Linked DNA regions of Homo sapiens. The protein of the gene in region 4 interacts with the protein of the main gene of each other region in a pairwise test. Each region holds a gene or a part of one and is shown on either strand. Other genes may lie near its edges.

Evidence for each region.
Region 1: the proteins of KLK6 (region 4) and TMTC1 interact in binary tests that used the Homo sapiens proteins (3 or more experiments, as listed by UniProt).
Region 2: the proteins of KLK6 (region 4) and RBFOX1 interact in binary tests that used the Homo sapiens proteins (3 or more experiments, as listed by UniProt).
Region 3: the proteins of KLK6 (region 4) and ARFGAP3 interact in binary tests that used the Homo sapiens proteins (3 or more experiments, as listed by UniProt).

The regions. Positions count from the first base shown.
Region 1 is NC_000012.12:29,773,917-29,780,942, reverse strand, and holds part of TMTC1 (protein O-mannosyl-transferase TMTC1), read left to right. Parts: intron 1-7,026. UniProt on the Homo sapiens protein: Transfers mannosyl residues to the hydroxyl group of serine or threonine residues.
Region 2 is NC_000016.10:6,014,953-6,022,035, reverse strand, and holds the start of RBFOX1 (RNA binding protein fox-1 homolog 1), read right to left. Parts: upstream 3,013-7,083; 5' UTR 2,138-3,012; coding exon of another isoform or gene 2,135-2,137; 5' UTR 2,044-2,134; intron 1-2,043. UniProt on the Homo sapiens protein: RNA-binding protein that regulates alternative splicing events by binding to 5'-UGCAUGU-3' elements. Regulates alternative splicing of tissue-specific exons and of differentially spliced exons during erythropoiesis.
Region 3 is NC_000022.11:42,805,268-42,812,293, forward strand, and holds part of ARFGAP3 (ADP-ribosylation factor GTPase-activating protein 3), read right to left. Parts: intron 5,678-7,026; coding exon 5,546-5,677; intron 3,624-5,545; coding exon 3,500-3,623; intron 1,897-3,499; coding exon 1,806-1,896; intron 1-1,805.
Region 4 is NC_000019.10:50,959,580-50,966,605, forward strand, and holds part of KLK6 (kallikrein-6 isoform A preproprotein), read right to left. Parts: intron 4,932-7,026; exon of another isoform or gene 4,849-4,931; intron 4,088-4,848; exon of another isoform or gene 3,977-4,087; intron 3,971-3,976; coding exon 3,723-3,970; intron 2,302-3,722; coding exon 2,165-2,301; intron 1-2,164. UniProt on the Homo sapiens protein: Serine protease which exhibits a preference for Arg over Lys in the substrate P1 position and for Ser or Pro in the P2 position.

The DNA.
Region 1 (7,026 bases), on a different chromosome or scaffold from region 4:
GGCCCTTTAAATATGTGCAAACCATTTTAACTGTATCTTAAATTATGCTTGTTTGAGCAAAAACTTTGAGATTTCAAACCCGTTTTAAAAACTTTTTTAATGTAATTGTGCATTCCCATGCAGTTTTAAGTAATAATAGAGAGATTCCTTCTACTCTATCCATTTCCCCCAATGGTAACATCCTGTATTATTATGGTATAATATTACAACCAGGAAATTGATATTGATGCAATCTACAGCATTTAGTCAGATTTCACCCATTTTATATGTACTTCTATTTTTTTTATTTTACTAAGTGTGTATTTAGTTTTATGCAGCTTTATCATATGTGTAGATTTCAGAGAGTACCTCCACAGTCAAGATACGGAACAATTCCATCCCAAGGATCCTCAGTACTTCTTTATTGCAATCATGGACACCTAATCTATAACAACTGCCTAATCCATAATCCCCTCACCCAAATCCATAACAACCATGAATCTGTTCTCCATTATCATTTTGCCATTTTAATACTGTTGTATAAATGGAATCACATAGTATGTAACCTGTTGAGATTGGCTTCTTGCACTCAGCATGTCTCTGGATCTTCATTCAGGCTGTTGCATGTATCCATAGTTTGTTCCTTTTTATTGCTGAGTTGTATTCCATTGTATGGATATACCACAGTTTGTATAACCATTCACCTGTTGGGGACATCTAGGTTGTTTCCAACTTTTGGCTGGGATAAAGCTGCTATAAAAATTCACTTACAGGTTTTTATGTAAACATAGATTTTTATTTCTCTGTTCTAAATGCCCAGGAGTCCAATTGCTGGGCCATATGGTGGCTGCATGTTCATATGCTTTATATGAAGCTGCCATACTGTTTTCCAGATGTTCCTAGCCGCAGTGTCTGAGTAATCCAGTTTCTGTGCATTTCTGCCAGCACTTTGTATTGTTGCTGTTTTTTACTGTAGCCATTTTGATAGGTATGTAGTGATATCACACCTATATATGTACCTCATTAATTTACCATTCCCTAATGGGTGAAGCTATTGAACATCTGATATTAAACCAAAGAGTTTGGTAAATGTGCCTTTGTGTCTTTTGTCCATTTTTAAGTGTTTTTTTTAAATGTTGAGTATTGAAGTTCTTTATATATTCTAGATACATGTACTTTGTCAAGTATGTGATTGGTAAATATTTTCTCCCACTCTGTAGCTTGTCTTTTTGTCCTCCTCACAGGACCTTTCTCAGTGCAATACTCCAAACATATTTTTTATTAAAATGTAAGTTGATTTTTGATTCATTGAATGTATCTTACGCATACTGAGAGCTAGAAATTTCCTTAAGAATAAATGTAATTTATAGATGCATAATACTTTTTGCTATAAAGGTGGTTGCTTGTATACTAATAAATAATAAAAGTGCTTGCTTAGGTAGTAAAGATACTAATTATGTATTTTTTCAAGTAAGAAATGAACTAAAATTTGAAATGAGGAAATGGGTTGCAGACCATCTACTTCTACCAGTTTTGAGGGGATGGGACAGTGGAATATGAAAGCAGCTTACCAAGATGTGGTGGCTTTGCACTATGTCACTTTAGCTAAGTTGGGACTATGTTTCTTGGAATTGCCTTTGCAAGATGATCTGGGTTAGGGCTGACCATAAGAAAAATTTCTGCAAGATTTGGAAGGTGAAAGTGAAGTGGCTAAGATCACATTCAGAATGTTGGCATAGGTTTTGTTGCTGCCAGGCCTCTTGCAGTTTGTCACAGAAATGTTGGTGAACATGCTGTTGGTTTGCAGCAGCACCCAGGCCCTCAGCTCCTCCAGTGCTCTCCAGATCTCGTCTTTCAGCTACTTGGAATCATGGTGCAGGTGTGTATGCAGCTCTGCAGGGAAGAGTGCCAGTCTTTTTGCAAGCCTCTTGCATTGTTAAAGTTGGAGCCTTAAAGGCAGTGGAAAACAGACATGTATTTTAGCTCATCCTTGTGGGTTCCATTTTGCCTTTGCTTCCCCCTACTTCAAGTCCATTCACCCTCTCTTCCAGAATGGCCCTGCTGCCCTGCTGGCTTTCAACTTGGATAATAGACACAGAAGCATCACACTTACATAGGCTATTTAACCAGCCCCAGCAATAGTAAAAGGTCAGATCCCCATAGTACATCCCTTCTTCTGAATCACTCATGGTGGCTCTGGTTTTCTAGTCTAACCCTAACTGATACAAATGACCATCTCTTTGTGTTCCTTGAAGTGAATTTAGAATTACAATGAATTTCTGTTTCCAGTCAAATCTCAGATTCAGTCTTTTCATAAGATCATGCCCAAGGGCATGCAAGAATATTTTTGGACCATAGTGGTACAGAATCAAAACATCTGTGACTCTGCAGCAATAACATTTTTTTTTTGCTTCTTTTTCCTTCCCTGGCCATGACCTGTTTGTAAGCCTGAAATCAAGAGAAATGCATTAAGCTACTCTGTAGAGGGTGAATTGACACAGAACCAAACTCTATGATGTCCATAACCCCTCCCTTGAAAAATGGTCCAGAATGGTTTAAAATAAACTTAGCTTTTTAATTTTATCCCAACCCTTCTCTTGGGAAGAAGATACTGCTGAATTGTTCGCAGTGCCATTCCATTCAGTAAGCAGGTGGAAGTCTGCTTCAACAAGCAAGAACCAATGATTTTTTAATGTTAAAGATGGGGAAACTAAGCAAATGAAAGGACTTTAAAATCCTGATTCTTTCTCTGTGTGTTTAGCCTATTAGATTATATTTGCTATAATGCTTTATTTTATTAAGAGCTTCTGATGGTAATATAAACCATAAGAGTGAAAGTGGGTGGTTTAAAATGTCAGAGCCAAAAAATAGACTATCTTAATATGTGCAGCTGTAGGAATTTACAGCATTTTAATGTTTGATCTTGAAGGTTTTTTGCAGTAGTTTGCATCTTTTAGTTACAAATAGTATGCCAACCATGAAAATAAGCACTAGCTAACCTCCATGCCCACAACCTTAAAGAAACGGTGATATGTTTCTTTTGTTTCTATTCCTTTTCATTCAACTTCTGTGGGATTTCATTTTGACACAGCCTGTTGCCACAAGGCTGATAAGTTTGTTTTCTAAGTCTATCATAGGACACAAGTGAAGATTCTCTAGGATGTTTGACTAGATTGTCTAGGATGTTCAGTGACAGAAATAACCAAGGGAAAATGTGATTGGAGGCAAGAAAAATTTTATAAAGAAAAATGAAAAACTGCCTTTGAAAATTTTATGCCACCCTAAGGTTATCTTGGAAGCTCCAAGAGGTGGAGGTTGTGATTATAATCTAGTAGGATATACTTTATAGACTACAGTCTGGTAGTGTAGGAGGGACAGAAAGTGAGAGGAATATATTTTTGGACTCATGAGGGTTTTTATAGGTGAGTCCCTGAATCAAGGCTTGGAAATCACCTTCCGAAGCAGTCTATTATTACCAACCAATGTCTTTTCTGTCTTTCTTTGGAGCTACATTCATATTTTTCCTAACTTTGAGTATGTCATCATCTCACTTAAAGAGAGGGGTAAGGAGGTCGGGCACGGTGGCTCATGCCCTGTAATTCCAGCACTTTGGGAGACTGAGGCGGGCGGATCACTAAGTCAAGAGATCAAACCCATCCTGGCCAACATGGTGAAACCCCATCTCTACTAAAAATACAAAAATTAGCTGGGCATGGTGGTGTGCACCTGTAGTCCCAGCTGCTCGGGAGGCTGAGGCAGGAGAATTGCTCGAACCTGGGAGGCAGAGGTTTCAGTGAGCCGAGATTGCACCACCGCACTCCAGCCTGGCAACAGAGCGAGACTCTGTTAAAAAAAATAAAAAGAGAGAGAGGGGGGTAAGGAATGCCTGATCATGCCCACACAATGGCAGTGTTTCTTTCCCAAATAATAAGATACTGTTTCTTTTCTATGAAGTCCTGTTTGATCTGACCCCTGGCTACCTCTCTGATCCCTAGTCTACCAATCTCCACCTCATTCTCTGCACCAGCATTCCAGAGCCCTTGTTCTTTGCACAGGCCAAACCCACTGCTACCAAAGGCCTTGCATGTATTGGTGGTTCCTCCTGAATGCTTTTCCCCAGATCTGTGCAGGGCTTATGTGCTCACCACCTTTGGTTTCTGCCTAAATGTCACTTCATCCCGGAGGCCTTCCCTGGTGGCCAGGTGATCAAAGTAGCAAACACTCCTCTGTGTTTTTTTACCCTTATTTCCTTACCCTGCTTTGTTGAGTTTTACCTCCCCTCACTACAGTGTAAACTCCATGAGGTTTATCTCTAGCACCTACAACTAAGCCTGGCTTGCAAAGTAGGGACTCAAGATTTATCATTGAAAGAAGGAATATTATTTGTCAATTAAAAATGAATTAATTTTTTAAAGAATGAATAAATCCTTTTTGTGACTGCTCAGATTTTTCAGGTAAATACTAAGGTAAGGCTACATGATTATAATGTAGAGAAAAAGTCTGCTTGGTTTACTTTTTCACTAATTTACCTTTGTTCTTTCTTTCTCAAAGAGAAAAGTGGAGGCAGACTAGGAATTTCCTCAGATGTATACAGAGGATACCAATGGGTTCTGTTTACTGAGAGATTCTGAAAGGGATGACTTTGAATTTCTATTGGAACTTGCTGGAACTGTAACTCTGTGTAGAGAATGAAGATCTGTAGCGCTTTTGGATCTTACTCTTCTTAGGTGGCAGGTTGCAGCACAAATGGTTGGTGGATGCTTGCTGCAAAGTTCAAGGTGAGAAACAGCAGCTGTACCTTCAAAACCCAGAATTATAGGGGGTTCTCACTACACTCCAATCTCAGGTTCCTAAGATTCATCCATGCCTATGCTTTCTATAAGGAATGGCCTTGTTGGATCAAATGGAGTACAAGTACCTGAAAATATGTTATCAGAGAAACTAACATGACAGTGATTTTTTTCTGGTCTTCGTGCTGGATTCTTGGGAGGAAACTTCTGATCCCTTGGAATTTCCCAAGTGAGAGGAGTTTCTTTATTATTCATGATGGACTCCTGGGATCACACCTAAGTTTATGCTAAGGAGGAGTTGACTCATGGTGGGCTCCTAGATGGTTATAGGGTGAGGGCTGGCTGTGGTGTAAAGACCAATTATATGATTAGAGGGTTGGGGCTGTGAGGCATGTGATATCACTCCTATATCTCAACCTCCTAGGAGGGAAGAGGGGCTGAAAATTGAATTGTTGTGTGGTCAGTGATTTCAATCAATTGTGCCTACATACTGGGACCCCCAATAAAAACTCTGGACACTGAAGTTTGCTTGAACTTCCCTGGTAGGTAATCATACCTTGATGTGCTAGGAGGGTGAAGCATCCTGAAGAAATAGAACATTTATGCTCAGGGCCCTCCTGGACCTTGTCCCGTAGGTTTCTTCCTTTGATTGGTCCTGACTTGTATCCTTTATAAGAAAACTATAGCCATAAGTATAGGGGTTACTCGATTTCTCTGAGTTGTTCTAATGAATGATCGAACCTGAGGGAGTTGTGGGAGGCCCTGATTATGTAGCCAGTTGGTCAGAAGTACTGGTGGCCTGAGGAACTTGTGGCTGATGTCTGAAGTGTGAGGAGTTTTGTGGACGACTTTGCCCTCAACTGGGAGTTTTTGTTAATTCTGGGAAGTTGATGTCAGAACTGCATTACAATCAGGCACTCCACCAAACACCAAACACACATTTAAAAAAAAATGCTAAAAATTGACAGCTCAGTTAAAACTAAAATATTTGGCCTTGGTCTGTCATAATTTTTATTATTTGCTGGCTCTCTTTTTGAGGATTTTCTTCCGGGACTTGCTACCTTCCAGATATATTTACTGATCTTCCTGCCTTCAGTTTTCTTACCCTTTCTTTAGTACAGTTATTACTCTAATAACTGTACTATTACTCTAGTACTAATGTAACAGTGACAATAACCTCCCTTCCCATGGGGCAGCTTTCCTGTGGGGCAGCTTCCTCATAGCCAGATAAGGATGTGATGCCTTGAACTCAAATCAAAGCCATGAATTTTGCTTCAGCTGCAGAGTATCAATCTCCCCTCTGGACTGTTGTTTGCATTGGTGCCTGGGAGCTACATCATTTTGTACTTCAGATACATTAAGCAATAATGATTTGCTGATTTATTCCTGGTACTGAAGGGAATGCAGAAGAAGAGCAACCAAAATGATTGAGGGCCAAAGGGATTTTTGCCTTAGAGGAGAAATGAGAAGAACCAGATGTTGTTATTTATTGGTTGAATGATCTAAGAAGACTATGGAAACCTCTTATAAGCATTTGAGATCTGTAATGATGGCAAGAGGTTGGGAAAAAGAAAGATGAACAGTAATAGAGGAATACAGGAGAATGTGCTGTGTGCTTAGCATTGGGCTGTGGAAACCCATGCTGAAAGTGTTGGAGAACCCAACACTGGAGACACCAGAAACAGATAATAAAGGGTTACTTTTAATTTTTGGTTTTCCCTGGTTTGTATTTCTTTGGAAAAGAATGTACTCTATTCTTTGTGTTACTGCTGAGAAATCTGGGCTTTTCTGGAAAGCTGGGCAATACTAGCAGCCTTCCCTTAAGCTTTGAAACCTGTCTCTCATTGTTCTGAGTATCACCTGACTTTGAATCACCTGGGTTGCTTGGGGGCCGATCTCTGGGCCCTAGTTTAGATCTGCTGCCTTGGAATATCTTGGGATGGGATCGGAGAATCAACAATTGTAGCTACCACACCAGATGATTAAGACAGTTGAGAACCACTGGGACTCATGGGGGCCCATGTTTAATGAGGTTGAGATGCTAAAATCTCCCTGGCATAATGTAGAGAAAGGAACGCAAAGGCTTATTGAGATAGGAATGCTGGCATGCGTTTATCACATGCCACCTGCACACACACACACACACACTCATGTCTCCACTGTATTCCCAGAGAGGGCCAGATGACTTTCCCTTTTTTGAGGCATTGAGAATTACATTGGTGAAGGAGCACCTGCAACTTCGAGAAGCTCTTTGGTG
Region 2 (7,083 bases), on a different chromosome or scaffold from region 4:
TCTGTTCCTTACTTAAAAGAAAACGTGTGTGTATAAGGCAAGCCACCTGCCTTTCCTGTACCACTCGGTGCTACAAGGCTCAAAAATTAGAGGAATCTACTTGAAAGAATAAAGAAACAAAACTCATAGAATTCAGGCACTTACCATGTGCCAAACTGTTCTAAATGTTTAGTGCTTTAAGTAATTTACCCCCAAACCCTCTGAGGACAGAACTACGACTGAAACTCTGATTTTACAGGTGACAACCCGAAGCTCAGAGAGGTAAAGCAACTTGCCCAAGGTCACACAGCTGGCAGATAACGGATCCAGAAGCCCTGTGCTCTTCTGAGCCATAAAGCTCCACTCTCTGGACCCCTAAGGTGTCACTTCCACTACCGCGAGGAATGATGACTTTTCTTCCTAACCCGAGGCAACCATAAGCTAACTTAAGGAAAGCCCAGGGGATTCTTCCAAACGGAGGGCCTCCCTGACGAGCTCAAAGAGGACACAGGTTTTGAGTCAGCCCCACTTTTTACCAGCACAGCCACTGCCAGCACCACCTTTACCCTTCACAGGCCCCAGGTCCTTTGCTTCTGAACATAAAAGATCTTAGCTAAAAATAAATCTGCCAGTAGCTCCAGCCGGGGCCTCTGTGGTCACTTAAAAATTGAAAGAATCCAGGCCCTCTCATCTTTTTTTTCTCTCTTTTGTAACAAAGATAAAATGATAAATGGAGGGGAGATGAACTAGGACAGGGGGCAGGGAAGGGATGGCAGGCTGGGGCATGTCCTAAACTTGGGCTGTCAAGGCCAGGCCTCTCTGCACAACGGAGTTTAAAAATAAAAATAAACAATCATTATTCTAATAAAGGAAAACCCAAGTTAGGAGACATGATGTTTCAACTCAACAAAGCTATTTCACCACACTCCCCCACTTCTTTTCAAGTTCAACTGAAAAGATCCGCCTTTGGGGTGCCAATTGCCCGGACTGCCTGACCAGGATTTCCAAGCTCTTCAGTAGCCGCACCCCAGATGTTCCAGTGCCAGCAGGTGCACCCCAGCTCTGGCCCACACAGGAGCGATGAGCTCTCCCAGCCCCCTGACCATTCCCTGGCAGCAAGGAATGGAGCTGGGGGCTCCAGGACAAGGTTAGATCGGGGTCTTCCCCTCCCTTGCTGAGTGGACAGCTTCCGGGCTCCGCGTGACACCTGGTCCCCGCAGCTGGCGCCAGGGAGGCTCCAGGAGCTCACAGCCAAGTGGCCTCCTGGGCGGTGGGGAGATGGGAGCGGCGCCCCACTAGCCCCGCCCTCGCTTCCATAGCTGGACAATTGGTTGATTGGAGCTGACAAGCCCCCCCCTGGCCTGCACAACAACACAGGGCTAAGATCTGCTACCCCTGTGTTTCCTTCTCTGGGGTGAAGGTTCTCTAAGGCTCCCAGGAACCAGGGGCACAGTAGGAGTTTCCCATTCGCAGGTTTCCCGGCTGGCCCCCTCCCCTGGGGTCGAGGTGGCACCGCGGGGCATCGATTCCAGTGCCAGTAAACACAGCGGCGCTTTCTCCACATAAGTGAGCCTTCTCTTCCCCTCCTCCCACAAGGGGTTCGGGGCACCTAAACACCCTCCCGGGTCACTAAGATGCCTCCTCCTGCACACCCTGCGGGCGGAGGCAGCGGTCCGGGGGCGCGCTGAGTGCACGCTTGCAGCCGGCCAGGGAGACTAATCAAAGTGCGCAGGCAGGCTCCCGCTGCTCCTGGCACCTAGGACTCGCTCCCAGGAGGACGGACGAGGTAGCCTGGATGCTTCGGAGGGGCGCTCTGGGGCAAGGAAGGACGTGCTTCTGGAAGCGACGCACAAGGGGGCTCAGGGTCTCGGCCTCCTGGGGGTAGGGGGGGACACGCCTCGAGATCTTTCCACACACCCTGAAAAAGTTCCCGTCCAGAGCGCCCAGACTGGCGCTAGGAGGAGGCCAGTTCTCGGGGACCTAGCGCTTCCCTCCATGAGACCTTCTGGACCTGACCCACCAGGTCAGGGTGGGTGCAGAGGCAATGACTCCGCCTGGACTTACCTAGAACTCCCGGCGAGCCCGGCTGCGGTCACGTTCTCGGCCCCAGACCCCCGAATTCCCGTGCGCTCTCTGCACCCCCAGCCACACTCACCATAAGCTGGAGGCGGCGGAAGGGGGTGCTGGTTTCTCACGCACTGTCCGCAACTTCGCGGGCAGGTCAGCCCCGCCCTGGCGCGCCTGCCTGGGCGCGGCGAGGGTCCGGACAGGCGGGGACCCTGGCGGCCACTGGGTGGGGGTCTGGAGCGCAAGGACTCTCAATCCCGGGCGCGCGGTCCGCTCCTGCTCTCTCTGCCTGGGCAAGAAGCTCGGAGTTCTCCTGCTCCGGACGCCGGGGCGGGGCCCACGGCTGGCTGTCCCCTCCAGATGTGGGGTGCTCGGCTCGGCTCACTCCTTCCTTCTTCAGCCCCGGAGGCGCGCGCGTGGGTCCAGCCAGTGCCGCCGCCTCTGCTGTTCCCGGGGCTGGCAGAGCGCCCCCGCCCCACCGCGGGTGCTGCTGGGGGGCTGGGGCGGAGGGGGAGGGATTCCCCTCCGCGAGTTCGGGTTTCCCCACCCGACGCGGCCCCTGGGCTCCGTCCGCCGTCCGCCACCCTCCGCGCTGCTTGGAGAACCACTTCAGGGCAGCGCAGCCAGTCCCACCGACTCTGGCTGGAGGAGGCGGCGGCAGCGCGGCTCGCACGGGGACTGGAAAGGAGGTGACCTTCAAACCCCGCGCTCGGGAGACCAGGAAGGGGGCTGGGGTGATCGAGGGAGCGGTGTGTGCACCCAGACGGCCAGCAAGAGCGCTTGTAGGAGGGCGGGAGAGAATAAAGAGGAAATCTTCCAGTAAAAATATAGATTAGAAAATAAACAAAGGAGAGCCGGAGAGAGCGCGAGAAAATGTGTGCATGTGTGTGTGTGCGTGTGTGTCTGTGTGTGTGTGAGCGCGCGACAAGCAGCGAGCAGCCCCGGCTGCGGAGCCAAAAATAATCTGGTGCGCGAGGGAGCGCCCCCTCCCCCTTCCCCTCGCCAGCGCCGCCGCCGCCGCGGTCACGCGTGCAGCCCTGGATTCCAGCGGGCGGCGGCGGCGGACACGCGACCCGGTACCCTGGTCTCCTGGCCTAAAGGGGACAGAGGGTGAAAGTTGGATGCTGGGGCAATGAGCCCAGGACTTTCACCTGCGCCCGTCCTCGTCCTGGTAGTCCCCAGGTGGGCTCACTCATTGAGCACCAGCGCCCTCCTCCCAACCCCAATCAAAGTAGACAAATCCCCCACTAGAGACGCCAAGTGGAGGCAGCTTCTTGCCCCAGTCCATTTCTTCTCTGAGGAAGTTTTCTGGCAAGTCTTCAAATCTTCCGGCCAGGCAGAGATCGAGCCCTATCCAAGATTCAAAAAGTTCTCCAGGCTGGATGGGATGCAGGGCTGGGGTGGGTGCGGCTGGCCTGGGACGCCCCCACCCCGCACAGCTGGGCCTCTCCTGTCCTGCCCCCTTCCTGGCCACCTACTCCCGCAATGGACGCTGAAGGGGTCTAGGGATTGTCCTCCTAGCAGATGTCTTACAGCCAGAAGCCCCATGACGCCTTAATACACACTAGCACTTAATAAGCATTTACTTTCCACCAGATGCTGTTTTAAGCACTTTACATGGAGTCTTTTCAACAACTGGAAGTAGATACTGGAGGTTTATCCATTTCACAGATGCTTAGAGAGATTAAAGCAATATTTCTCCCTTCCTGGGTCCCACTCTGGACTGGAGTGAGAAACTCTGCTCTTCCCCTACCTTTTCCTTTCCCTCCCTCCCTTCCTTCCTCCCTCCCTTTCTTCCTTCCTCCTTTCCTCCCTTCCTTCCTTTCTCCCTTCCTCTTTTTTCCACAAATATTCCAGGGGGTTTTGTTGTACAATAAAGTCAGTCTGAGGTTCAGTGAGTTGTAATTTGTTCAAGGTCACATAGCTGGCAAGGAACCAGGACTCCCCAGGCAGTCTACCTCATTTTATGTGGCACCACCCTGCCTTCTGAAGGGCAGGTGGCATTGGACAAGGCCAGATTCCAGCCTTGAGCACTTGATCTGAGGCGCCTGTTCATTTTCCCATCCTGTGATGTGACTGTGTTTGCACTTATACCATGGATCCTCTTATAAGAAATGCTGTAAGCTTTCCAAAACAGGGGGCCATGTGATGTGCATTCCTTTGTACTAGATGTACGTGTATTTCCTAGCGCCCATCAAGGAGCAGATTCCTTAAGGGTTCCTCTTGCAATCCTATCGGGCTGCGGTTTCTTTCAACCTCAGAATAAAAGAAAGGGAACTTCTGCCTATAACTATATTACTTTTTAAAGCACGCAATATTTAATCATCATTTGAAAAAGTAAGTTTGCAAAATCCAGAAAGATATCTTTATCATTGGTCCCAGCGATTTTGCAATTTGGGTTGATTTTTACCATATGTTTCCTTAGGATTCTCTTTGATAATAATATATTTGTATGTAAGCAATTTTTTTTTCTTTATACTAGTCTCATCCTTCAGTGATAGCAAAATGAAACCATAAATCTGGGTTGGTAACATCATAATCATTTCCCCCAGAAACTGTTCACAATGGGAAAACCGCCGAATTTAAATGTAATTGTCTAGCCATGCAGGGAGATGAGATGGGTTGTAAAAGAGGTATTCTCAATTTAAAAGCAAATTATCAATAATGATAGAAGAAATAAATGGCAGTTAACGGGAAATTCTGTTGGAATATACTGTTTTGTGCAAATTCACCAACAGGAATTGTTTGTCTATTCTCCTTCATTTTTTATTCCAGAAAGGAACAAATGAATGCAATCATTCAAGGCAGTAACATCAGCTGTTGTTACATTAAAATGGGTAATTGCTGGGCCCTTTGATTATTTTTAATACATATATATATTTACCATTGGAAATAAAACATATTCATCTATCTGAAAATCAAGTTCAGCTTGAGTCTGCTCTGATTTATTTATTGTAGAGTAGAAATAGGCTTAGATAGATTAGTGATGAGTGTCAGGCATGACTCACTGGTACCTGTATTGCTACATGGCTTAAGAATATGAGTGTGAGAGGCATCCATTACAATTTAAAACAAAATTAGAGTAAAGATCAATATGGCATGCCATTATGCTATTCATTTGGAAAGTATTAGTTTCTTTCTCACAATGACCTTTCGCATTCCAAGTAGAGTTTTTCCTGTCATTTCTCCATGTTGAGCCACTGGAAGATAAATGAGAGGTGCTGAAGTTGACAGCTCCCAGGACAACCTAGGGCCAAGAATCGCCCTGCTATGGTTAGAAAGAACCTGGAGACTTTGGCTCCTCCTACTGGACATGAAAAATACTTTCCAATTTGTGATCTAAGCAAATGTCAAAAATGGTACCTTTCATAAAGCTGGTTTAAAAAGAACAAGGACTTTGTAGCCTTGTGCTTGGCTGAGAGCTCTCTAAAGTGTAAATTTCATCATCTTACTTTAAAACTTAGGATCTTCCTATAGCTCTTCATTATTCCCCAGGATAAGGTCTAAAGTTGTCCATGTGGTTTACCAGCTCCTGGCTCTTTTTAAGTTCACTCTGTGACCCAGGAGGGCTTTTCTCTTGTTGTATCCAATCTTTTGTATATGTTGTTCCTCCAACCAGGAATACCCTTACATACTCTCTTTTCCTGGATAGCTTCTGTTTAGTTTTTAGATCTCCATTTCAATATCACTTTCTCCCTGCCAATCCCTCAACTCCCTACCCAGCCCCCCATAGGCACAGATAAGGTGTTCTTGCGAACTCCTCTAACACCTCCATTTACCTTTACCCTGTCATTTGTCTCAGCTTACTGTAAATGTTGTTCTCTTCTATTAAACTAAAAGGTCTTTACATCAAAGATTTGTTCCCTGATGCACAGCACCAGCCACATAATAAGCTCAATAAATGATAGGTGAACCTTCCTTCTTTCCTGCAGTAGATTGCTGTCTAAATGGGCTAACCACTTTGGAATGAAATGAGAAGTCAACCTGCTCATCCATTTATGTAGTCCTTTGTTCTTTCAGTCATCAAACATGCATCCTTCTTGAGGCTAGTCCCCCATGTAAACCATTTAGTATATAAACTAGACTCAATTTCTGCACTCGAGAAGCGTACAGTCCAATAGCATATGCAGACACATAAATGAGTGATTGCAACTGTCTTGAAACATTTGGCCAATACGGAGCAGGAGCCTATAGCCAGATATGGCAGAAGGGCAGAAGGTCAGGCAAAGCATTCTAGAGAAGATCGTGTCTAAATAGAGAAGATAAATAGGAATTCCACAGAGAGTTGGGTGATGGATATTCCCGAAGGAGAATACAGCTTATGAAAGTGCCTGAAGCAAAACAGCATAGCTCCTTCTAGGAACAGCAAATCTGTTCAATATAAATAGAGTCCTGTTGAAGTTAAGGGGCTGGACAATGGTGAAAGAGCCAAGAGAGTAGAAGCTGGAACTAAAGATATGGGCTAGGGAAGGCCCAAGGCAGGCTCTGAAATGATTTGTAAGGCGTATTTGCTTTACCACAGGCAGTGGAGAGTGACTGGTTAGCTTTTCAAGATGCACCATTACCATAATGATTTCCACTGCCAGTGCTCTGGGCTTCACTCTGCCTTCACTGATGTTTCAATGACCATTTTCTCCATTATTATCTTATATTTGTTTAATAACTTTTCCAGAAGGTCAGTGTAAACATCCAGTGAATTCCAGGGATTTGTAGATTACTCCAGAGTACTCTAGGATTTTTAAGAGATTATCAGTGATATATTAAACAGAATAGGAAAAGGATGAAAAAAGCAAGCTAAAAAAATCTAAGATCTAAAAATCTAAGAAGGCCAGAGGGTGGTGGCTCTTGCTCATACCTGTAATCCCATCAGTCTGGGAGGCTGAAGTGGGCAGACTGCTTGAGCCTAGGAGTTTGAGACCAGCCTGGGAAACACTGTGAAACCCCATCTCTACAAGAAATTTAAAATATTAGCCAGGCGTAGTGGTGTGCACCTGTAGTCTCAGCTACTTGGGAGGCTGAGGTGGGGGGATTGCTTAA
Region 3 (7,026 bases), on a different chromosome or scaffold from region 4:
TTTTGTTCAGTAACTGGAAAGGCTGCTCTCATTTGATCTCCAAATATTTTTTTAAAAAAACAAACAGTGCTTCAGAGTAAAACTTCTATTGATTTAAATTACAAAGGCATCCATTGCAGGGAGTCAGGGGACTGAACAATGCAGGTCTCTGGACCGGCTGCTGGCTGTGCCAGGGCCCCTACAAGGCGACCCAGCACTGACCTGTGGGGCTGCTGGAGGTCTCCAAAGGTGGCCGGAGTGCCTCTCTGCCAGGGGTGGTCACAAAAGGAAGTTGCCCTGACAACAGGCCAGGACACTGAAAGTTTGGAGATGGAACAAGCCAATGAGCCTCACCTGCCCCCACCAAGACTCACTGCCAGGAAATGCCCAGTCAGCAAGTAACTGACTGCCCAAGGGAAACGAGGCCCCTCTGCTCAAGTCTGGGGTGAGGCACAGGGTGTGCTCCTGACCAAAGAGTGGCTCAGGGGAGCCGTGGCCCTGGCTGCGCACCCCCAGGCACCCTCACACTCTCACTGGCAGCGGATGTGCCGGGGCTTGTCCACTCTGGCCCTGGCCTCTGGCTCCTTGGGCTGCCTGGCTCTCTGCCAGCTGCTCTGCCAACACAACCCTTGTCTCACTTGCTGCCACCTGGCTAGGACTCTCCCTCCACTGCAGCACAGCAACTTGGCAGTGCCCACTGCACCCCGAGGGCCACAGTGTGTCTCTATAACATCCCCAAACCACAACCCAGAATGTCCGACACTCAGACCTCTCTCGAGCTGTTTCTCTTTGGACTCTGAAAACAGCTGTTCTCTGTGGCTGTAAGGCCAAGTGATAGCCTAGGTTGGTCACTTAGAGCCACAGCCAGCTCCTCTAGGCCTAGGGATGCTGAGGGTGCCAGGCTTGGAATGCCTGGCTCCTGAGAGTCATCCCTCCCCTTGGCTCTCCTGCTGATAAATGGCTTCCTGAAATGACCTCAGAGGACGCTGCCCCTTTCACGTTAACCACAGGGCCCCTCCTCCCCACTGTGGCCTGGCAGAGGCCTTTGTAGGGTACTCTCACAAGGCATCCCTCAGTCAGGGGGAGGGGAAGTCGAAGCAGAGGGGCCGGCGCTCTGAGGCCCACCACTGGGCTCACAGGCCGCCCCATCCTAGGCCATCCCAGCCCTGGGAGGACCAGACACCTCCTCGCTGGGGTCTGAACCCTGAAGAGGGATATGGGAGACAGGCAATTCCTCTCCACCTGCTCACTCCCAAAGCTGTGTTCTGTCTTCCCCAGAAGACAGATGCTGTTAGAGCCACATGTTTCTATCTGCCTCTGCCCACCCCTGGGGCCTGCTGTGTGCCAGACACTTGGTGGCACTTCACATTGCTCATTTAAGCCGCATGACAACCTTGTGAGGTGGTTTTATCCACCCCCGTTACAGAGGAGGAGACTGAGGCTAAAGACACCATGACATCCTCAAGGGCTCACAGCTAGAGGGTGGTGAGGATCACACGGGAGCCCGGCGCTGTCCACCTCTAAGGCTAAGATAGCACATGGTATTTCATAGCACAGCCGCACTCAGCTAGAAAACACTCCTCTATGACAGTGTTCAGAAGGATGACTTGCCAGGCAATGATGGGATGTTGCTTTAATTTCATGACTTGGTCTCCTTACGTGTGAAGCCTGGAATAGTAACTTCTGCTCTACCTGACTTATAGCAGAGATCAGAGCATCGAATAATGGTTGCTAAAATATCTTGGAAAAGGAAACAGTCCTATCCAGATGAAATGTGTTCATACCGTAGACATGACAGAGACCAGCTCTTGTTCAGTGCCCCCTACCTGCTGGCTGCTTCCTCGGCTCCTCGAACAGATCAGCCGAGCTTATGGAGGAACTTGCCGACAGCCTCTCTAGGCGGGCCCTGGTCTCATACTAGAGAAGACAAGGAAAAGGAAATGTTAGGCTCCAAAGATTGTGGGCAGTTTTGCAAAAAGAATCACTGAAGAGCTGTCATTTGAAAGTGTTTGACCCCCAGGCTCTTTCTTTCCAACAGTTACTGAATGCCACTGCCAAGGCCAGGTCCTGCGGGACAGCACAAAGCTCATGTTCTGCATGGGAGGCAGGTCACAGGCAGACTGATCAACATACAACACCTCAGCCACGATGGCCAGTGCGGAGGCCGTCGGAGTGAGGGAGGGAGAGCGGCATCTCTCTCCTGGTGCTGCTTCTAGCCAGCTGTCAGCAAAGGCCACTCTAAGAGTCTCTTTTCCAAGCCCCATGACACTATTTTAAAACTGAACTTGAATGTCAACTTTGAAGCAAGGCAGATTTTATGGACTGTGGGAACAGCAAGGGGCAATTCTACTTTCGAAATGATGGCGAAATGTTACACTTGCAGAAGTTTAAATTTCTGCAAAATACATTCAGCACATTTTAGGAAACCATCATCCAAATAGTCAGAGGCACACTAGCAATTCAGGATGAGAGGAAAGACGTAAACCTCCCCACTTCCACTTGAGTCTTACAGCTTAGCAAGACTTCACTATGATGAGTTCATTAACATTTCTTTCTTTTTTTTTTTTTTGAGACAGAGTCTCACTCTGCTTCTGGGTTCGAGCGATTCTCTGCCTCAGCCTCCCAAGTAGCTGGACTAGAAGCGCGTACCACCATACCGAGCTAATTTTTGTATTTTTTGTAGAGACGGAGTTTCATCATGTTGGCCAGGCTGGTCTCGAACTCCTGGCCTCAAGTGATCCACCTGCCTCAGCCTCCCAAAGTGCTAGGATTATAGGTGTGAGCCACAGTGCCTGGCCAAGTTCATTAACATTTCTGAGAAAAGCCAACAACCTGAAAATAAATATATGCACTCCTCAGAAACATATCTGGCTGGGCGTGGTGGCTCACGCCTGTAATACCAGCACTTTGGGAGGCCGAGGCAGCCAGATCACCTGAGGTCAGGAGTTCAAGACCAGCCTAGCCAATATGGTGAAACCTCATCTCTACTAAAAATACAAAAATTAGCCAGGTGTAGTGGTGCACGGCCGTATTCCCAGCTACTTGGGAGGCTGAGGCAGGAAAATCGCTTAAACTTGGGAGGCGGAGGTTGCAGTAAGCTGAAATCATGCCACTGCACTCCAGCCTGGGTGACAGAAGGAGGCTCCGTCTCAAAAAAAAAAAAAGAAACATATCTATGTGCTTCATTTCACTATGTTTAAAAGTTATTAAGTAAATTACAGCTGCACCAACAATTGAAATATATTCAAAAGATACTGGATAATGGCTATTCAAAACACCAAGAGAGGAATAAGACAACTGTGAGATAAGTCCTTGTCTTGTAAACATTCCTCTTGCTGAGGTAGCAAGCACATGATCAGTTATACAGACCTGGGTTCAAGTCCTGACTCCAGCACTTTCAGGCCAGAGGGCATCTGGCAGCCTGAGCCCAGCTCACTCAGGATCTCCTCCCCGACAATGCCCACACCCACACTTCCTTCCTGCATTATGGGGCACCCAAAGAAACTCTCTGGACCCTTACATCAGCCTGGGATTGTCTTCCAAAATACATATCTGATGAAATGGCCTTGACATTGCCAAACTTCTTCTGGGCCTCATCTGTATTTTCAACTGGCTCATAATCTGGCTTGCGGCGAGCAGTAGGTCTGCAATTAAAAACAGCCAAATTAGGTTAAACTAATTTGAGGTGAAGCAAATGTGTTTCATACTCATTTTATTTTTTAAAATGCCAACAGCAGTAAATTTTGTAAAAGGATTTTAGGCTGTTTTTAAAAGCCTGAAAATTCTAATTAAAAAAAAAAGAATAAATACCCAAACGATACAAAATTTGAAGGAATTTCTGTTTAAAACGGGGTCTGTTATTTCACATTTCAGTTCAAATATGTTATATCACATTTCAGATCAACTGGGTAAACACTGAATACATTGTTTGGAATGTCCATAGGACACTGCTCTCTCTACATTGTATAGGTTATAAAATGTCCCAGTTACCTGGGACAATTTCAAGTCACACCTGTTGTCCCAACATATTAGTAGTACCCCCTTGCACTCTCAGAAGTCCTCTGGTTGGAAAATAAATTCATTCATAATCACCAAAAACTGGAGACAGCCCTTCAGCAGGTGAATGGATAAACTTGGCAAGTAAGAGGAATGAATACAAGAATGAATGAGTCTTCCCCAAGTGTACTAAGACAAGTTAAACCAGAGTAGGAAGGCCAATTGCTACATGACTCCATTTATATGATATCTGGGAAAGGCAAAATTGTAAGGCCAGAAAACAGACCTGGGGTGACCAGGGGCCAGGGGCAGGGGAGGGGGGACTACAAAGGGCATGGGGAAAATTTGGGGGTGATGGGAACTGTTCTGTTTCTTGGTTTTGGTGGTAATTACATGAATGTATGTGCTTGTCAGAACTGTAAGTTTAAAAAGATGAATTTTACTATATGTAAATAATACCTTAAAATTGGGGGAAAAAAGGCCGGGTGCGGTGGCTCACGCCTGTAATCCCAGCACTGTGGGAGGCCAAGACGGGTGGATCATGAGGTCAGGAGATCGAGACCATCCTTGCTAACATGGTGAAACCCCGTCTCTATTAAAAATACAAAAGAATTAGCCAGGCGTGGTGGCGGGCGCCTGTAGTCCCAGCTACTCGGGAGGCTGAGGCAGGAGAATGGTGTGAACCCAGGAGGCGGAGCTTGCAGTGAGCTGAGATTGCACCACTGCACTCCAGCCTGGGTGACAGAGCAAGACTCCATCTTAAAAAAAAAAAAAAAAAAAAAAAAATTGGGGAAAAAGGTGAAACCTTCCTGACCTAGGCCACCCCTGACCCATGGATCAGAATCTTCAGGGAAGAGGACTCCACACACACATTTCTTTCAAGGTCCACAGAGGATTCTGATGTGCACTTCCTATTTAGAATCAGTAATTTAAAATCAAAACAGGCTGGGCACGGTGGCTCACACCTGTAATCCCAGCAGTTTGGGAGGCCGAGGCAGGCGGATCATTTGAGGTCAGGAGTTTGAGACCAGCCTGGCTGGTGAGGCAACCGTCTCTACTAAAAGTACAAAAATTAGCCTGGCATGATGGTGTGCACCGGTAGTCTCAGCTACTCGGGAGGCTGAGGCAGGAGAATCGCTTGAACCTGGGAGACGGAGGCTGCAGTAAGCTGAGATTGCACCACTGCACTCCAGCCTGGGCAACAGAGTGAGACTCTGTCTCAAAAATAAAACAAAACAAAACAAAAAAACAAAATCAAAACAATATTCCTGAAATAGTAGAACAAAATCATTTACTAGTCTTACAAAAGGTTTCAAAAGGTTTTCCTTTTTGAGGGGGACTTACTCTGTTGACCAGGCTAGAGTACACTGGCGTGATCATAGCTCACTGCAGCCTTGTACTCCTGGGCTCAAGTGATCCTTTGACCTCGGCCTCTTAAAGTGCTGGGATTATGGGAATGAGCCGCCGTGCCCAGCCCCTTACAAGGGTTTTCATGTCATCATGTTATCAGCAATTTTTTCCCAGAAATGCATGGATTCACTACTACAACCCCACAGTTTTGCATTCATACCTGTCTGAATAGCCTGTGGTTTTCAGAACTGTTTCAGTATCTTTGCTGGTCTCTTTTTTCCAATAGGAATCTGAACTGTCATCCCAGCTAGAGAAAGAACTGCTCCTTAACTCCACTGGCTCGTCAAAGTAACTGTAGGAGCAAGAGTACAACAGTGACTTTGGAGGTCCTTGTTGACACTCGTCCTGGGCTCTCTCACTTCCACAGATGTGGGGGATGCCTCCTTGAAGTTAATGGCAGTCACATAACTAGGTCTAGCCAATGAGACAGGAGCAGACACGAGGTGTGTCATTTCCAAGGCCTTTCAAGTACCTGTGTTCAACCTTGCCCAGTCCTCTCTTCCCAAGCTACATGGAAGAGATTGTGTTCCAGGTGCTACAGTCTCAGGTAGGTGAAACCTCCATCAGTCTGGACAATCAAGATGACACATGGAGGACAGGTACTCTAGAGAACCACCTGAACCCTTAGCTGACTTTATGTGAAAAAGAAATCAATTGTCATTGTGTTCAGCCCTTGAGATCTGGGGGATGTTTATAACCTTAGTATAACTTGGCCTATCCAGACAACACAGGGCATCTTTAAATGTTATCTACCACAGGTTACACATTTCACTGTCTTTAGGTCTCATTCCGCCTGGTTAGGCAATCACAAATAACACTGCTGGGCCTAGAGAACTGACTCCATACAAGGAGCTTCTTGTTGGCAATCCCTTCCGTGTTAAGCACATTCAATGAAAATGATGTAAATGATGCTCATTAACCTCCTCCTGGAGTTGGATACAAAGCTATGGATCATGATCACTGGACCATTCTGGGGATAGTCTTTCAGCCTGGAGCCTGCAGTAAACTTGATCTGATTTGCAAGCATCCCAGGAGAGCCTGGCCTTCAGATCAGTTTACACTTTAATTAGCCAATTGTCACTGAGCAGGGCATTGCTCAGAGAGCAGCACTCAGTGTTGGCTTTTGGTCCTGTGTGATTAGAGAAAAATCTTTGACCAAGAGCAGCAAGGTCTGCCTGGAACAGGAGAGACTGACAGGCGAGGTGGATGTGCCAAAACCTTGAGAAAAAGTGACCATCAACCAGCCAGGCACGGTGGCTCACACCTGTAATCCCAGCACTTTGGGAGGCCAAGGCAGGTGGATTGCTTGAGCCTGGGAGTTCCAGACCAGCCTGGGCAACATGGCAAAGCCCCATCTCTACAAAAAATGCAAAATAAAAAATAAATAAACAAATAAAATAACCGTTTCCTGACCATCTCCGGGGATTAAAAGAAAAAATTAATGGGGCATGGTGGCACGCCTATAGTCCCAGCTACTTGGGAGGCTCACCTAAGCCTGGGAGGCCGAGACTGCAGTGAGCCATGATCATGCCACTACACTCCAGCCTGGGTGACAGAGTGGGATACTGTCTCAAAAAAAAAAAAAAAAAAAAAAAGGGACTGTGCCATGCCAGAATTCACGATAGCTTAGGATGGAAAAGC
Region 4 (7,026 bases):
AGAGGAACATAGAGAGCAAGAAAGAGAAACAATTTAAGAATGGAGACTGAGAGGTGTGGAGAGAGGCAGAGGTGTAGAGACCGATGGAGAGAGAGGAGGAGGAAGAGGAGAAGGAGGAGGAAGAGGAGAAGGAGAGGAGGAAGAGGAGGAGGAAGAGGAGGAGGAGGAAGAGGAGGAGGAAGAGGAGAAGGAGGAGGAGGAGGAAGAGGAGGAGGAAGAGGAGAAGGAGGAGGAGGAAGAGGAGGAGGAAGAGGAGAAGAAGGAGGAAGAAGAGGAGGAGGAAGAGGAGGAGGAGGAAGAGGAGGAGGAGGAAGAGGAGGAGGAGAAGGAAGAGGAGGAGAAGAGGAGGAAAAGGAGGAGGAGGAAAAGGGGGAGGAGGAAGAGGAGGAGGAGGAAGAGGAGAACGAGGAGGAGGAAGAGGAGAAGGAAGAGGAGAAGGAGGAGGAGGAGGGGGAAGACGAGGAGGAGGAGGGAGAGGAGGGGGGAGGAGGAGGGGGAGGAGGAGGGGGAGGAGGATGGGGAGGGGGAGGAGGATGGAGAGGGGGAGGAGGATGGGGAGGGGGAGGAGGGGGAGGAGGAGACGATAAGACCCAGGTGGGAGAGGTAGGGAGGGCCCAGGGAGAGATATGCCTGGCACTATTCTGTCCAGGGACACCTCTCCACCTCGTGTCTTGAGGACAGTCTCGCCCACCTGCCCTTTCTTTGCGTCCAACTTGCTATGTATCGCTTTCCCTGTCTCTGTCCCTGTTTCTGCCTGTGTCTCCGTTTCTGCCTGTGTCTCCCCCTTGGTTGGTCTCTGCACATCCCTCAGTGCATTAGTCATTCTGGCATAAAGAGGAGAGCCTGGATGGATGACAATGGAGGAAACCCAAGTTAAAGTATTCGGGAGGGAGTCCCCTTTCCCCAGCTAGTGTCTCCCTCCTCCAGAGCCTGGTCGTTTCTGAGCAGGACTCGTGGGGGCTCTGTTTGAGGAAGGACAGTCCCCTCACACCATCTGCTTCCTTACTACTTCTCTTTGGTTCTTTTTGTTTTTAGACAGAGTCTGGCTCTGTCCCCAGGCTGGAGTGCAGTGGCGTGATCTCAGCTCACTGCAGCCTCTGCCTCCTGGGTTTAAGCAATTCTCCAGCCTCAGCCTCCCGAGTAGCTGGGACTACAGGTGTGTCCCACCATGCTTGCGTAATTTTTGTTTTTTGGTTTTTTTTTGAGACGGAATCTTGCTCTGTTGCCAGGCTGGAGTGCAGTAGCATGATCTCGACTCACTGCAACAACCTCCGCCTCCAGGTTCAAGTGATTCTCCTGCCACAGCCTCCTGAGTAGCTGGGACTACAGGCGCCTGCCACCACGCCCAGCTAATTTTTGTATTTTTAGTAGAGATGAGGTTTCCCCATATCGGCCAGGCTGGTCTCAATCTCTTGACCTGGTTATTCACCCACCTCGGCCTCCCAAGGTGCTGGGATTACAGGCATGAGCCACTGTGCCCATCCTAATTTTTGTATTTTTAGTAGAGATAGGGTTTCACCATGTTGATCAGGCTGGTCTCGAACTCCTGACCCCAGGTGATCCTCCTGCTTCGGCCTCCCAAGGTGCTGGGATTACAGGCATGAGCCACTGTGCCCATCCTAATTTTTGTATTTTTAGTAGAGATAGGGTTTCACCATGTTGATCAGGCTGGTCTCGAACTCCTGACCCCAGGTGATCCTCCTGCTTCGGCCTCCCAAGGTGCTGGGATTACAGGCATGAGCCACTGTGCCCATCCTAATTTTTGTATTTTTAGTAGAGATAGGGTTTCACCATGTTGATCAGGCTGGTCTCGAACTCCTGACCCTAGGTGATCCTCCTGCTTCGGCCTCCCAAAGTGCCGGGATTACAGGCATGAGCCGCTGCTCCTGGCCTCTCTGGTTCTTGATCCCGCGGCCTCCATCCTTGTCTCTGCACTTCCTGTCTCTGCTGGCTGTGTCTTTATATCTCTGCATATCCCTGACTGTGTCTCTGTGTGTTGAACTAAGTCTCTTCTTTTCAAGGCTTGGGTTCTCCCTCAGCCTGTCTCTATCTGTCTCTGTAAAGCTCTCTTTTGGCCTGTGTCTCTCTCTTCCTGTGTCTGGCCATGTTTTTGTGACTTCGTCCTGTCCCTGGCTGTGTAAGTGGCAGATCCGGGTCACCTCACCTGGCAGGAATCCTTCCCGTACTTCTCATCCCCAGCACACAACATGTTCTGGGTGATCTGGCCAGGGTAGGCATGCTCACACTCCTCACGGGACACCAGGTGGATGTATGCACACTGGATGGTGTCAGGGAAATCACCTGTTAGGGGAGAGATGGGCCAGACTCAGCCCAGGCCTTGCACTCCCCTCATCCTCCCCAGTCACCCCCCAACCCCTATAAGTCCTCCATCCTCTATTGGTCCCTCTTTTCTATTGGCACCCCTCTTCCTGTTTGTCTCTCATTCTTACATCTCATTACCATCGTCCCTGCCTCCTAATTGGTCCCTCTTTCTATCATTCTTCCCCCCCATTGGCTGTCTTCCTCATTAATAGTCTCTTCTCCAGGAGTCCTCATTTCCTATTGGTTTTCCTTTTCTCTTAGGTCCCTCCTCCACTTTTCTCTCTTCCACTGGTCCCACCTTCTTCAGTAGTTTCAGTTGACCTGGAGGACTCTTCCTCTGTTACGCCCTCCTCTACTGTACCCCTCCTGATCAGTAGTCCATTCTTCATTGGACACTTCCTGCCCATTGATTCATCTTGATTGGTCACTCTGTGACCATTGGTCTTTTCCTAACTGGCCATGCCCTCTCCCATTGGTTCTTCCTTTCTATTGGTTCTTCATCCAATGGTCCACCTCCATCATTGGTCCTTTTCTAACTGTCCCCACCCTCCCTCATGGATCCTCCCTTTCTATTGGCCCTTCCTCCAATGGTCTACCTTCCTCATTGGTCCTTTCCTAACTGGCCCTGCCCTCCCTCATTGGCTCTCTCTTCCTATTGGTCTGCTTCCCTCCTTGGTCCTTTTCTAACTGGCCTCACCATCCCCCACTGGCTCTCCCTTCCTATTAGCCCTTCATCCAATGGTCCACCTCCCTCATTGGTCCTTTTCTAACTTGCCGCATCCTCCCCCATTGTCTCTGCCTTCCCACTGGCCCTTCATCCAATGGTTCACCTTTCTTATTGGCCCTTCACACACAGGCCCACCTTCATGGATCCTGCTGATCTATTGGACCTGTTTTTTCCTCTAGTGACTCCTCTGGACCATTGATCCTTTCCCCTTAGTCCCTCTTCCATCAGCTATACCCCCATTCACTGTCTCAATTCACATCCTTCAGTTGGCTTTTGTGCTTTATTGGTTTCTCTTCTTCCATCAGTTCCTTCTCCATTATTCCTTCCTGCTGTTCAATGAATCCTGATCAGTCCCCTTTGACCTTTGACATCCTTCCTGATTAGCATCTCCCCACTGACCTTCCCTCTTTATTGAACCTTCATCTTATGTTCCATCTCTCCCATGCTATTCACCCATTGGTCTACATTTTCCATTGGCTGTTCACTCACTGGCCCAGCTCCCAAATTCACTCTCCCTCCCCCTTGACCTTTCTCCCATTGAAACCCTGTCCCATTGGTCCTCACCATTAGCCCATCTTCCCATGGCCCCTCACCAATTTTCCCACTCCCCATCCTTTGGCACACTTCCCCAAGTAGCCAGTAGCCTGCTCCCCACCAGCCTCCCACTACTGACCATCTGCTGTCTTGCCCCAGCCCAGGATGTGGCAGCTGGTGGTGTTGGCTGAGCAGTCCCTCTCCAGGGGAAGGGGCTGGATGAGTTCAGAGAGTTTGGCTGGGCGTGCCAGGCGCAACAGCATGATGTCCTGGTCATGGCTGGCGGCATCATAGTCAGGGTGGATCACAGCCCGGACAACAGAACTCTGCTCCTGGGAACTCTCCCTTTGCCGAAGGTTATGCTTCCCCAGGAAGACCTGAAGATTCCTGGGAAGGAAGAGGGCTGGGTCTCACCTGGAGCCCTTGGGCTGCAGTTGAGGCTTCAGAGAGGGCTGGGAAGTCATGAATCGCTGGCCTGCTCCTCCCACAGTCTTCCCCAGCTGGGTAAATGGCAATTCCATCCTTTCAGAATAATCTTGGGGGCTATTCTTCACTCTCTTTATTTCATGCCCTACATCCAAGCTGTCCAGAATTCCTTTTGCCTCTCTGAAGCATATCCAGAATCTGGCCACATCTCACCTTTCCCACGGCTACCATCTTGGTTTGAGCTGCCTTTTCACTTCCTACCTGAACTAGAGCAGTAGCCTCCTCACTGGGCTCCCTGCTCTGTCTCTGGTCCCCCACAGTCCATCCTCCACAAAGCAACCAGAGATATTTTAACAATGTAAGTTGGTCCTGTGCCTCCTCTGCTCAGCCCCTCCTATGACTCCCATCTCACTCAGAATCAAAGCCAAAGTTCTCAACGTGGCACACCAGGCCTTGCAAGCACTGCCCCATCATCTCACAGACATCTTCTCCTCCCACTCTCCCCTTCTCTCCCTCTGCTCCAGCCAAACGCTGGCTTCCCTGTCTTGCCTTGAACACAATAGTGATCTTCCCACCTCAGGGCCTTTGCACTGCTGTTCCCTCTGCCAGCAAGTCTGTCCTCCAAGTATCTGCATAGCTCACTCCCTCACTTCCTTTAAATGTCGCCTCTCAGGGAAGCCTTCCTTAGTTGCCCAATTAAAATACAAATACCTGTTAGTAGGCAATTCCTATCTCCCTCCCCTGCTTTCTGTTCCACCAGAGAACCTATCACAATCATCCGACCTGCTATATATTTATTGTTAAATATTTACTCATTGTGTTATTTCTCCTCCTTGCAGAGCAATGCTGTCCACTAAATGCTACGATGCCATGATCTCGATCTGCACTGTCCAGAGGTGGCTGGGGGAACCACAAGCTACAGGTGGCTGCTGAGTACTTGAAATGTGGCTTGTGGATTTTCCATTTCATTAATTTCAATGTAATTTGCTATATGTGGCTGATGGCTACCATATTAGACAGTGCAGCTCTAGGATGTCAAGATGGGGATTTTTGTTCTATTCAGATATAGTATCTCCAGTGCGTTGATCAGCACCTGGCACAGGATAGGTGTTTGATACATATTCCTGAAACAGAGAGTCACTCCCTTGCTCAGACATCACCCATGGCTCCCCATTGTCCTAAGAATAAAGCCTGGGCTCCTCCACTTGGCACTGGAGCCCCTGTGTGATCTGGCTGTAGTCACTTTCCAACCTTATCTCCCAGCACCTTCTGCCCCCCAGTGAACGGGAAATTTTATTTTCTGAGAATACTCAAGACGGTTCTCACCTCAGGGGTGTTATCACAGCCTTTCCTCTGCCCTGAACATTCCTTTTCCCATCTTCATGCCTCCGCTTGGATTTTATCTCATTAGAAAGTCCTTCCTGACCCTCCTCCATCTAAAGTAGGTACCCGTATTCTTTTCCTTCATAATTTGTAATTATATGGGGTTTTGAAGGGTTTGCTTCTTTTGTTTGTTTGTTTTTTTGAGACAGGGTCTCGCTCTGTCACCCAGGCTGGATCTGCAGTGGTGTTCTGTAGATCACAGCTCACTGCAGCTTTGTACTCCTGGGCTCGAGTGATCCACCCGCCTCGGCCTCCCAAAGTGCTGGGATTACAGGCATGAGCCACCACGGCCAGCCCAATTTGCTGCTTCTTTCTTTCCTTTTTTTTTTTTTAGACAGAGTCTCGCTCTGTGGTTCAGGCTGGAGTGCAGTGGCGCGATCTCGGCTCACTGCAACCTCCGCCTCCCACGTTCAAGCAATTCTCCTGCCTTAGCCTCCCAAGTTGCTGGAATTACAGAAGCCCACCACCACGCCTGGCTAATTTTTTGTATTTTCAGTAGAGACAGGGTTGAGCCATGTTGGCCAAGCTGGTCTCGAACTCAGGTAATCCACCCACCTCGGCCTCCCAAAGTGCTGGGATTACAGGCGTGAGCCACCATGCCCAGCCCTCACTTTGCTTGTCTGCACCTTTCTGTCCTTGTGCTCCCGAGGGCAGGGATGACGTGTGTGTCCCATCCATTGCTGAATCTCCACTGCCCAACTCGAATGTGGCACTTAGCAGGTGCTCTTAGTCAATGTACATCAAAGGAATGAATGATGGTGGTGAGAGTCATCCAAGGTCTCCTTGGGGTCAGGGGAACCACCCCAGGGATTGTCACTTGCTATTTCCCTGCACCTCAGTTTCCTCATTTGCAAAATGGTGCCAAGAGTCCCTTGTGGTGGGCATTCCAGGAAAGGTGTGTACATGGTTTCACTCAGCACCTGATTGGTAGTTAGCATCAAACAAGTGGCAGCTGTCGTGAATCTGACTAGTGAGGATCAGCGCCCAGGGTTTTTGTCCTGGGCCCTCCAGCTCCTCCAACTATGCCAGCTTTTTGGATGATCTCATCTAGTCCCATGGCTTTAAATACACCTGTTTGCTGACGATGCCTTCATTTTAACCTCCAGCCCTGACCTCTCCTCTGAGCTCCAGAGTCCTCCCTGGCCTCCCTGCTGGGACATCTCCCCGGCATCTCCAACTCATCGTGGCTAAAGCAAAATGTCAGATGCTCCCCTGCCTACACCCGGCCTGTTTCTCTTTCCCTCTCCCACAACTCAGAGAAAGACGTGGCAAAACACCCAGTTGTTCAGGACAAATACACGGAAGCCAGCCGTGCTTCTTCCTCTCCCTCCTGTTCCTCGTTGCCAGATTCTGCTGGCTCAGTCTCAGAATTCCACATCCCAAGATATTCAACATCCCTCCATCCCCACTGCGACCGCCTGGGTTCAAGCCACCCTCCTATGTCGCCGGATGAAAGCAACAGCCCCCACGTGGGCCTCCCTCCCTCTCTCTTGCCCAGACCACGTTCCACGTGGTAGCCAGGGTGCTTGTAAAAATGTAAATCAGGCTGGGTGTGGTGGTGGCTCATGCCTGTAATCCCAGCTCTTTGGGAGGGCGAGGCGGGCGGATCACCTGAGGTCAGGAGTTCGAGACCA